2 separate regions of the Homo sapiens genome follow, and region 2 is linked to region 1. The links come from fine-mapping of genetic effects on gene expression. Tissue or cell type: nucleus accumbens. Region 1 holds a variant in brackets; the other region holds the start of a gene. All regions are shown on one strand. Distances are from middle to middle. Region 1 overlaps SYNE3 (spectrin repeat containing nuclear envelope family member 3). Region 2 holds the start of TUNAR (transmembrane neural differentiation associated intracellular calcium regulator).

What was found. PIP is the estimated chance that this variant, and not a neighbour inherited with it, causes the effect. A credible set is the group of variants that fine-mapping cannot tell apart.
Region 2: TUNAR starts here. The variant in region 1 is the best candidate, but not a certain one, in a credible set for the expression of TUNAR in nucleus accumbens (GTEx, PIP 0.56).

What each region holds. Positions count from the first base shown.
Region 1 is chr14:95,469,049-95,474,048 of GRCh38, reverse strand. All of the region lies in intron 2 of SYNE3 (spectrin repeat containing nuclear envelope family member 3), which reads left to right. Among named protein-coding and RNA genes, the nearest start is that of SYNE3-AS1, 45 kb to the left of the region's middle. The variant A/C (reference allele first, on the strand shown) is at 2,303.
Region 2 is chr14:95,874,518-95,880,032 of GRCh38, reverse strand. TUNAR (transmembrane neural differentiation associated intracellular calcium regulator) reads right to left here and starts at 3,201. Exons shown (of 2, transcript NM_001416131.1): 1 at 2,856-3,201. The coding sequence starts at 2,867.

The sequences.
Region 1 (5,000 bases):
CACCTCGCAAGCTCACACCAGCCTTAGTTCCAGCCACTGTCATACCTCCCAAGCTCACACTGGCCTTAGCTCCAGCCACTGTCACACCTCGCAAGCTCACACTGGCCTTAGCTCCAGCCACTGTCACACCTCACAAACTCACACCAGCCTTAGTTCCAGCCACTGTCACACCTCACAAGCTCACACCAGCCTTAGCTCCAGCCACTGTCACACCTCGCAAGCTCACACCAGCCTTAGTTCCAGCCACTGTCATACCTCCCAAGCTCACACTGGCCTGAGCTCCAGCCACTGTCACACCTCGCAAGCTCACAACAGCCTTAGCTCCAGCCACTGTCACACCTCGCAAGCTCACACCAGCCTTAGCTCCAGCCACTGTCACACCTCCCAAGCTTACACCGGCCTTAGCTCCAGCCACTGTCACACCTTGCAAGCTCACGCCCTCCTTTGATTGGCAGAAGACCTCGTAGACCTTCCACCGCCAAGCCTTTGTCCATGTGTTGCCTCTGCTTGGAATGCTTTTTTGTGTGGGTCTGGGTGTGCACAAGAAATGAAACCCTCCTGTCCGTGCATCTCTCCTGACCAGTTTCCGCCTTTCTCAGCCCCAGCTCCTGACCTTACCTGTCTGTGAGCATCACAGCCCTGCCTGTGTGCCCACTGTGTTAGGGTGCTTAGCATTTTAAACTTTCTACCCTTTGCTGGTGGGTCTTTCCCTCCAGGTGGTGGTTCTGGTTTAAGCAAAGTCAAGGGTGGTCCTTAGGAAGACACATTGGCAGGACCAGGGTGGATGGGCCCTGGAAGCCAGAGGCAGCACTTCTGTGAGCCCCGAGGGGGTGGGAGTCCAGGCAGAGGGGAGTCATGGCCTGAGCGTTCTGCCAGTGTCTCCTCCCACGGGGCTCCGGCATGCTTCATTTACTGTGTGTTTTGCCACTTCAAAACCAATTTCACAATAAGAAAGAAAACGTTTTCCTGTTGCCAGCTGGTAAGAGGGGGCAGCTAGTGCCTCTCGACCTACCCATGGGACCTGCCCCCGGGTGCTGGGGTCTCTCTTGTGCTTCCTCCACCAACTCTGTTGGCTTGTCTCCAGTGCCTGTTTGCTGCAGTGACAGGGACGTGGGCTCTGATCCAGTTCTGACTCTTAATAGCCATGCAGCCGGGAGGATGTCCCATGCCTTCCCGGGACCTCATGTTCCCATCTGTAGAGCAGGAATGAACCCCCTCACCCCTTGTGTTCCCGAGGGGTTAAGGGAAACTCCAGAATCCTCGTGGGGTGGGGGCTTTCTGTAAGGTGTGATTGGAGAACCCATCGCTCCTGGGTTGAGAGCTTGGCTACTGGGTCTGCAGGCCCGGGCTCCAAAGTCTGCCATGGCTGTGGCACCTCAGGAGGATTTCCCAGAGCTCTCTGAGCTTCAGCTTGCTTCCGGGGAGAGTGATAGCTGCTGCCTTTCAGGAAGGAGGGAGGATTAAGGAGGATCATTTATAGACATGCTTGTATGCACAGTGCAGGGTATGCTGGCAGAGCTGGCGAAATGGAGGCGATCGTTTCTTGTGGTTTTAGAAGCTGGGATACACAGCATACCAAGTGTCCCTGCCCATCCCCAGAGCCTCCAGCAGTGGGTCTTAGGAGCTTCCAGCCACACTCCCAGGTTCCAGCATATGTATTTATTTGTTTATTGAGAGGGAGTCTTGCTCTGTTGCCCAGGCTGGAGTGCAGTGGCACGATCTCAGGCTCCCTTGTCCTGTATCTGGGTCCTGGCCTGAGCCAGGCAGCTTCCTCACCAGCTTCTGGGCCACCGTCTTGGTCAGGAGCACCCTGGTGTTTCTCAAGGCTTGGATTCCCAATGCATTCATCCTTCAATATATCTTACTTCCCTACCTTTGCTCAAATATCCTTCTCCAGTTGTCTTTAATTAGAGACCTGCAGGCTTCATGCCAATGCCACCTCCTCCACAAAGCCTTCCTGGATTTCTCCCATCCCTCCCTGAGCTCTCATACTACTTTGCGGTCTCTCCTGGCCCTTTTTGCAGTCGTCTGCGCTCTTATCTGCAGCCCTCTTTCCTACCAGCTTGTTCATCCAGGACCCTAGCACTCAGCATAATGCTCAGCTGGGGGTCACCTGGTCTTGGCTGGGTTGAGGGAAAACCCTGATTAACCCCATTCCTCCACTTTCCTGGTCTCCTGATACTTCTCTCCAAGGTGTTTCCTTACATCCGATCCCCACCTTCCCCTTGCCCTCATTGGCTGCGACAAATTGGAATAATTCTGTGGCTGCAGTTCAAGTACTTTCTCCCAGCTGGCCACGCAG[A/C]CCTTGCCAAGCACTCCTGGACTGTGTCCTTGCTGGTGATGGGCTATAAAAGAATCTCACACCAGCCAAAGAGTGTAATCATCAGCGCAGTGAAAAAGAGTGGAATCTACTTCTCAAAATTCGGCTTTTCCAGCCTAGCCACAGCCTCTGGCCTCCCCTGGCTTCAAGCCTCCAATAAACTTCCTACAGGTTGATCTTTCAGGGCAGACGTTTCTTCTCCAGGTCGGGGAAGGGGGCTTGGTGTCTTGCCTGCCTTTGGACCAGCCAGCTCCTCTGCCTTGGTAAAGAAGCATCAAACTCACTCCCTTGAAAAGGCAGTGGGTCTCGGGTCTTTGTGTCCCCTTCTGTCCAGCCTGTGCCTCTTTCATGAGGATAAGAAGGACGAAGGTCCAGGGGTCTGGGGGGACCACACAGTCAGGACACCAGGCTTTGGAGAAGGGGCCATTGTCCGCATGGGACATTCCAGACCTGGCTGCTCCTTCTGGGTGTGGCCAAGGGAGATGGAATTTCACTTCTTCCCCAGAGTTGTTGGCTCCTGTGATTTTCAGAGCTGGACTCCATCTGAGCTGAAGCTGGGAGCAGGTGTGGAGGAGGCTTCTCTGGCAGCTGTAGAGAATCATTCCTCAAGGCTGGTGGTTTCTGTGGGTCCCCAGCTCCCTTGTTTGTAAATTTGGACTTATTGTGTTGCTAGCTTGGGGAATATGAAGTCTCCTTTCACATTTCTGGGAATCAGAAATATCATCTTACTTTCTTTTTTTTTTTTTCCTGAGACGGCGTGTTGCTCTGTTGCCCAGGCTGGAGTGCAGTGGTGTGATGGCTGGAGTGCAGTGTTGTGATCTCGGCTCACTGCAACATCTGCCTCCCAGGTTCAAGCAAGTCTCCTGCCTCAGCCTCCTGAGTAGCTAGGATCACAGGTGTGCGCCACCATGCCCGGCTAATTTTTGTATTTTCAGTAGAGACGGTGTTTCACCATGTTGGCCAGGATGGCCTCAAACTCCTGACCTCGTGATCTGTCCGCCTCGGCCTCCCAAAGTGTTGGGATTACAGGCGTGAGCCACCACATCCGGCTCTTTTTTTTCTTATTTTTAGTTTTTTAGTGACAGGTTCTTGCCCTGCTGCCCAGGCTTGAGTGCAGTAGTGTGATCATGGCTCACTGCAGCCTCAACCTCCTGGGCTCAAGCAATCTTCCTGCCTCAGCCTCTTGAGTAACTAGGACTACAGGCATATGCCACTGTGCCTGGCTAGTTTTTTTTTTTTTTTAATTAAAAAAAATGCTTTTGGAGAGATGGGGCCTCACTGTCTTGCCCAGAGTGGTTGCATACTCCTGGCCTCAGCGATCCTCCTGCCTTGGTCTCCCAAACTGCTGGGATTACAGGCATGAGTCACCACGCCTGGTCTACTATTATTTTTAATCAAATTAAATCTCTCTCTGAATGGCAACAAATTCATCCTCAGCCATGCTGTGGAACCCTGCCCCTGGGTGGTGTGAAACATCCTGGGTGGATAATCGTATTCAGTCTAGAACATTCCACACTGGCCCTTGGGTCTTCAGGCCACACTGGCCACTATGGTACTTTTGTTTTCCCCATCACTGCTCGCTGCTGAGAGGGACTCGGGGTCCCTGTGTGGGTACTTGCTGTGGCCACCACCCCCTGGGCCCCTGCCACATCCTGCTACTTGGCCAAACAAACCCTCTTTCCCTCTCTTGAGGAATCTCCCCATTCTTCACTCTCCCTGAGCACCTCCCACTCACATGCACACAGAGACAGCCTTTGGAAGGAGCTTGTTTGCCTCACTCTTTGATAACAAAGGTAGGAGGGGAAGTCCTTCTATACTATTATCATCATCGTCATCATCATCGTCATCATCAACGATTATTGTATGGAGTAAAAAAAGGATGGGGACCATTGCCCATTTGCACACATTGGGGAAGGGTCTACATAATTGTTCAACAGTTTACAAAGTACACTAACTTATACCCATGTTTAATTCATAGTGTTTTTATTTTATTTTTATTATTTTTAATATTATTTTTTGAGACATGGTCTCGCTGTGGCACCCAGGCTGGAGCGTAGTGGTTTGATCACGGCTCACTGCAGCCTCGACCTCCCAAGCTCAAGCGATCCTCCCACATCAGCCTCCCAAGTAGCTGGGACTACAGGCATATGCCACTACATCCGGCTAATTTTTAATTTTTTTTTTTTTTTTTTTTTTTGTAGAGACATGGTCTCACTGTGTTGTCCAGGCTGGTCTCAAACTCCTAAGCTCGAGCAATTCTCCTGCCTCAGCCTCCCAGAGTGCTAGGATTATAGGCATGCAGCACTGTACCTGGATAAAAGTGTTTTTAAAATTAATATTATAACCCTGGGAGGTGGACAAGCAGAGACTGTTATCGTTGTCTCAGGATGAAAAAGGGAGACCCAGAGTAGCCTAGTGACCTGCCTGGGGTCACACAGCTGTCAGTGGGGCAGCATTCCACATGGCAGGAGCTCTCCTTCACCCCAGCCATGGGGAAGGGTCAGAGACAAGCAGGCTGCTGGGAAGCCAGTCTAAGGACACTGACCACCAGCCCTCAGGGAGACGGGCTGGGGATCTGAGCTTGAGCTTTAGGCCATGCCTGCTGTTAGTAAAGACAGATCCAAAGATAAGGATAATAATAATAATAGTGAGCAGGTAGTGACTGGGTTGCGGTGTGGGC
Region 2 (5,515 bases), 410 kb before region 1:
TCCTGGCCTACGGAAGCTGTTGTTTTCCTCACACTCCGATCAGTCCAGGTGTGCATCCTCACTGATGCAGAAATGCCACAGCACTCAGGCTGTGTCCCCATGATGCTAAGTGTGGCAGCTGCAATCATGAGGGCATGGTCTCAAGCCCTGACTTAGAAGAGTAAGCAAACAAGGGAAATGTCTCATCACTGTTATTTACTTACGATACATAACCCTCTTGTTCTCCCAAAAGAAATCCAAGGCACTTAAAACATATTTTAACATGAGGCCATTATATGTATGGTGTGGAAGAGTTCAGCTTAGAGATCTTACAGAAAAAAAAAAACTGGATTTAAGACAAAGAAAAACTGAAAAGGAAGAATTTATTCTCGATGGCTTATTTTCACACGGGGAGAAAAAAGGCAAAAAATATGAGAAAACTAATGAATTAAAAAATAAATATCAGTAACAAGAGTAATGTTTTGTGATGTAATCCAGCTTTGGCTATGAGTAGTATGATCTATGACACAAAAATCGTTATTTCATAATTACCTCAGCATTTTCAAAAGCAACTTAATGAAGATTGTTTCTCTGCATTCATTTTTATTCAAAACCTTACCAGTTAATCATGAGAAGCTAAAACACACAATGCTGGGAGATTAATATCCCTACATAAGATGCATTATTTTTCCTTTGCAGATCCCTATGAGCCTGTCAAAAATGAAAGCTTTGCTCTGGTTTTGTGAATTTCAAACAGTCACAAAACCCGCTGAGAGCCGAGTTTCTGGGAAAAAGGTGGGACATGCCCGTTTCATTTGGGATTCGGCAACACTTTAAGAGGTTCATTAATCCACATCTTAAAAAGACCAATGACAACCCCATTAACGACCCATAGGTCAAAGTGATGGATTTAGCTCTAATCCACAGCCAAAAACTAACTCAGGGTCTGAACATCCTTCAGCCCACCTTCCCTGTCCCAGCCCCTCTGCAGCCAAGCTAAGGCCGGCTCCACGCATCGCTAATATACTCAGCAAACAATGCAGTTGGAAGAGTCTAAAAAAAAAATCACTTTATTTATTTGCAGTAATTGTTTGTGCTGGGAATGTTTTACCTATGCAAATATGATTGATTATTTTTGGAGGGGCAGGAAAAGCTCACCAGCTTGCTGCTTTCTAGCCTGCTGGGCATCTTCTTAATGCATTGTATGTCATCAGTTCTTAGGAGCTAATGTCATCTCTCCTACTGAAAGGCCTAACCTATCCCACAACCCCAATCTGGTAGCTTGGAACATTTTATAGCCACTATGTGTTAGCCCAGTAAATAATCTATTAAGCACAGCTCGAGCTTCACCTCTTTTGGGCTGAACCTGAATCTCACAGCTCCCTGGAAACCAAGTCCTCTTCTTGGAAATCAACAACCCATTCAGTGTAGAATGTTCGTCCAAATGACTGGACTAAGACATCCTAGCTCAAGCCTGTAACTTACTAGTTTTGTCACTCAGAATCATTTAGCTGAAGGGGGTCTGAAGGGCTGGTCAGTCCACCCTTGCTCTTTACTAACAGAGACACAGAGGCCCCTACTGCTAAGGGACTTTCTCTGCACCAACACAAATGTACGTGTAGACAACTGAGCTCAACACTGTGACTTCACCAATGGAACAAGCCCCTCAGACCAGGATCAATTGATTCCAGGTGGCTTGCCCCTTCAGGAACTAAATGCACTTAAGCAAACAGTTAACTAAATGCACTTAAGCAAACAGTTAACTAAATGCACTTAAGCAAACAGCTAACAGCGGCAAGCCAGAGAACTGGGGGCATGCATCAGGCATCGTATCTGCATTAAAACTCCTTTTCTTTGGGGCTCAGAAGTGTTTGGGGCTCAGAAGTTCTGCTGACACTGAGGGCTGGCAAATATGAGCCAACACTGGGCCAGCCCCTGCACAGTGGCCATCTGGGATCAGCCCCCGCTCCGGTTAAGTAATCATCTCCAAGATTTACAAAACCAGGGGCAGGTAACCTTGATGAGCCCTGCCCCCAGGGAAAGGTTAAGGATGCAGTTCTGAGGCCTAGCATGTGCTGGGCACACAGGAGGAACCACTGTCCTTTCCATCCTTCAGGAGGACTGGGAAAACAGAACCCCAGGAAAGAGAACACCTAGGAAAACATATTATCCTCTCACCTGAACTAAAAAGTAGAGTACACATTAGGGGTTGGCAGCAGCGTGATGGCAGGATGGACAAAAAGTGCTTGCTACAGGCAATTTATTTCATCAGAACAGATACTCATTGGAGCAAGTATTTTCACACACACGCAATGACTCTCGAGACGGAAGCAGTTAGTAGAAGAAATGAGACAGGTGTGTTTGTTACAAAGGGAACAGTCTGGCAGGGAAGTAGGGTACCCTGGTTTCCAATCCTGGTCTCCCACTTCCTAACCTTGTGACCTTGATTAAGTCATTCAACCTCTCTAAGCCTCAGTTTCCTCATCTGGGCCAAGGAGAAACGGGGACCTATTTCCCAGAGCGGCTTTGAGGCACACTGCCCGGCACGGCCTGGACACCCACTAAATAAGAGTTGTTGCCCCCAAATGCTAAGTCTGAACCTAGCTGCATACACATGCCGTTATCTAGACCAGACAGGTCTCCCGCCTGCATGTCAAACCCACATCTTTCTCCAGAAGGCAGAAGAAAGCACCAGGTCTGCCCGGGCAGTTCAGCCTCCAGGCGGGGCTTCGGGGCAGGGGAAATTGAACGATTCAATCGGAAGCCCCGAATGTTTCCAGGCTGTAAGTGGGGAAGGAGGGTAGGACAGGGGCCCTGAGGCGGCCTCCGGGCCCTGCGAAGGGAGCTTTGTTCGCGAGGCGGAGGGCCTGGCTTACCGAGAAGCGCATCCGGAGGCGGTTGAGGGGCGCGCGGGGCACGCAGCAGAGCCGCAGCCCGGCCCGGACCCGGAGCGCCGGAGCCGCAGGAAGGCGAGGAGAAGGAAAAAAAGGAGGCTGCCGCCGGCTCCTGCCTCATTCTCCCGGGCAGCGTTGACCCGCTGGCCGCCGCCGGATAGGGCTGGCCGCCGGGCGCGGGACCCCGTGCGCGCTGCTCATGTCCCCGTCTGCCGCTGGCTAGGTGTGCGCGCAGCCTGCTGGTCTCTGGGCGGCACCCGGGGGCTCCTCATGCCCCGCGCCGGGGCTCGGCGGGAGGACCTCGGAGAGGCAGCGCGGAGGGAAAGAGAGAGAGACAGCATGAGAACGCGCAGAGCTGCACCCCGCGGGGGCCGGGCGCCAGCAGCACCGCGCTGCCCCACCCACGGCGCGTCTGCTCCCCGCGCTGCGCGCCCAGCGGGGCGCCGAGCCCCAGAAACTTTAGCACATGGCCGGTCCGGCGGCCACGGTGGCCGTAGCTGCCCTGCTCTTCGAGCGCCCCCCACTGCTTCCTGCCCCAAGCCCCAGAGCGCAGCTTACCAGCGGCGACCGCGACCGCAGCGGCGGGGCGCCCACCCGGCCGCAAGCACAGCAGTGCGCACCTGCGGGAAAGGAGGAAGGGGCTGGCGGCGTCGGGGTCCCTACAGGGGAGGGGCACCTCGGCGGCAGCAATCGGCGCAGGTTAAGGCATTCTGGGCCGGGGCTGCGCGCGAGCCAGGTGGTGGCAGGCCGGGATTGGGGAGGGTCTCTGCGCCCCCCGCCCCGCGGCGCCGCTGCTGATGACGCGCGCGGGCTTCCCCGGCCCCGCGTCTGCGGAGCCAGCCCCGTTACCTAGCGACTCGCTCCGGGGAGCCCCCGCTGACGCGCGCTGCGAGCCGGGCTGCGGCAGCCGAGGGGCGGGGAGGGAGGGGAGGGGGAGCTCCAGTGCGGGGAGGGCCGGCGGCTGCGGGCCAAGCTCCTCCCTCCGCTTCCCTCTCCGCGTTGGGGAGGGGGCCCGGGAAAGACGTGGCCTCCGCCTGGCCCTGGAGGATGGGAGGCCTTCGCGGGGCGGGGGGGACGGAGGGAGGCACTGAGTGCCCCTGTCCCCGCAGTGGGGATGCAGCAGCAGGTGGCGGCTATGTGGCCTGTGGAGGCTCGGCACCCAGAGGCGCGCGGTGAGCCCGCCCCGGCGGGAGCGTGGCGAATGTGGCTTTGGGCGCGCGGGTGTGTGGGACACGCTCCCACCCACGTGGCGTACATGGGGACCTGGGGACGCGGGTGAAAGAGGCGCCTCCTCCTTCCTCTGGTCTCTCTCCCTCCTTCCTGGACATTTTGCTCCTGCGCTGTCTCTTTCTTCATCATGGAAGCCCAGGTTGCTCCGTTCCCCACTCCCAGCTCCTTATATCTTCCAGGGAACAGGCGGATGGCCTGGCAGCTGAAGGTAGTTAAGTCGTGGTCAAACCACTATACCCCCAATCCCTGCCGCCCTTTGGCGCCTCCCCAGCCCATCCCCATGTCCAGTTGCCCGCCTTGTAGGCCCTCTAACCTGCCTCGGGGCGCCTTCCACTTTCTTGGAAGACTTGGGACCTCTGACACAGACTGGGGTTCAAATCCAGGCCCCTCCAATTGCTTTCAGTACACAGGACATTTTAACGTCTTCAGGAAGATGGAGTCCTTGTCTCCAAAGGTCATAGCTAAGTACTAGTACCTAAGGCCTTCCATGAATGTGAACATGATTTTCTAGAAGATAAGCAGCCTGTCTCCTGGTTCTCTGGGACCTCACCAAAATCCACCCCAACGTCCAGGGAAGTAAGGCAAGTGCCGGGAAACATGGTCAGAGCAAGCAGCGACCATGGTCTCTATCGACGAGGAGGCAAATTGCCCAGGTCTGCTGGGTGCCTCAGAAGCAGAGCTGGGGGAAGAACCCAGACATCCTGGTTAGCAGGTTCCCAGGGCCCACCGCTGTGCCCCTTCCCCAGTTGGATGGTGCAAGGAACCTTCTGCCCCTACTTCTCAGAAGATCCTCCTGCCTACCAAAAGGCTGCTTCCCTCCCATCCCTGCTACAGAATAGGAATCACCTACCACCTCGTCCACAACACCAACCCATACCCTCCCTAGCTGGCCTTTCTGTCTTCCTCATGGTATGGATGTGGGGAGAAAGATGCAGAGGAGAGACTCAGCAGAGATTTAGGGGAATCAGGCCTGCCCAGGAACACCCACACCCCAGCCCTGCAGCTCTACAGGACAGAGTCCCTCCATGAGGGGCTTTGGGAAACAGCAGAGTCTGAGTGGTTTTTGTTGGCTTAGTGACAAGACATTTCCTCCAATTATTATTATTATTGAGATGCCAGTAACTCCTATTGAAAAACCCTGCAAGTCCATGGAAACAGAAACCTGTGTCTTAAGAAACCAGGGTCCAAAGGCCACACTTTTCTGAGAAAAGCACTTTGCATCCCAGCCTGTGTATAACAGTTGCATTCCAACATTTTCCGGCGAAATTGGGAGCAATATCTCTGAATTTCCCAACCAGTTATTATGGGTAGTTGCAGACAGGGAGGTGGTCCCCAGAAACTCCAGAAGAACTATTTCTGTGTGCCAAATTGGCTGCCGGCTCTTTCTTCAGCCCCAATTTCCCAATCTGCAG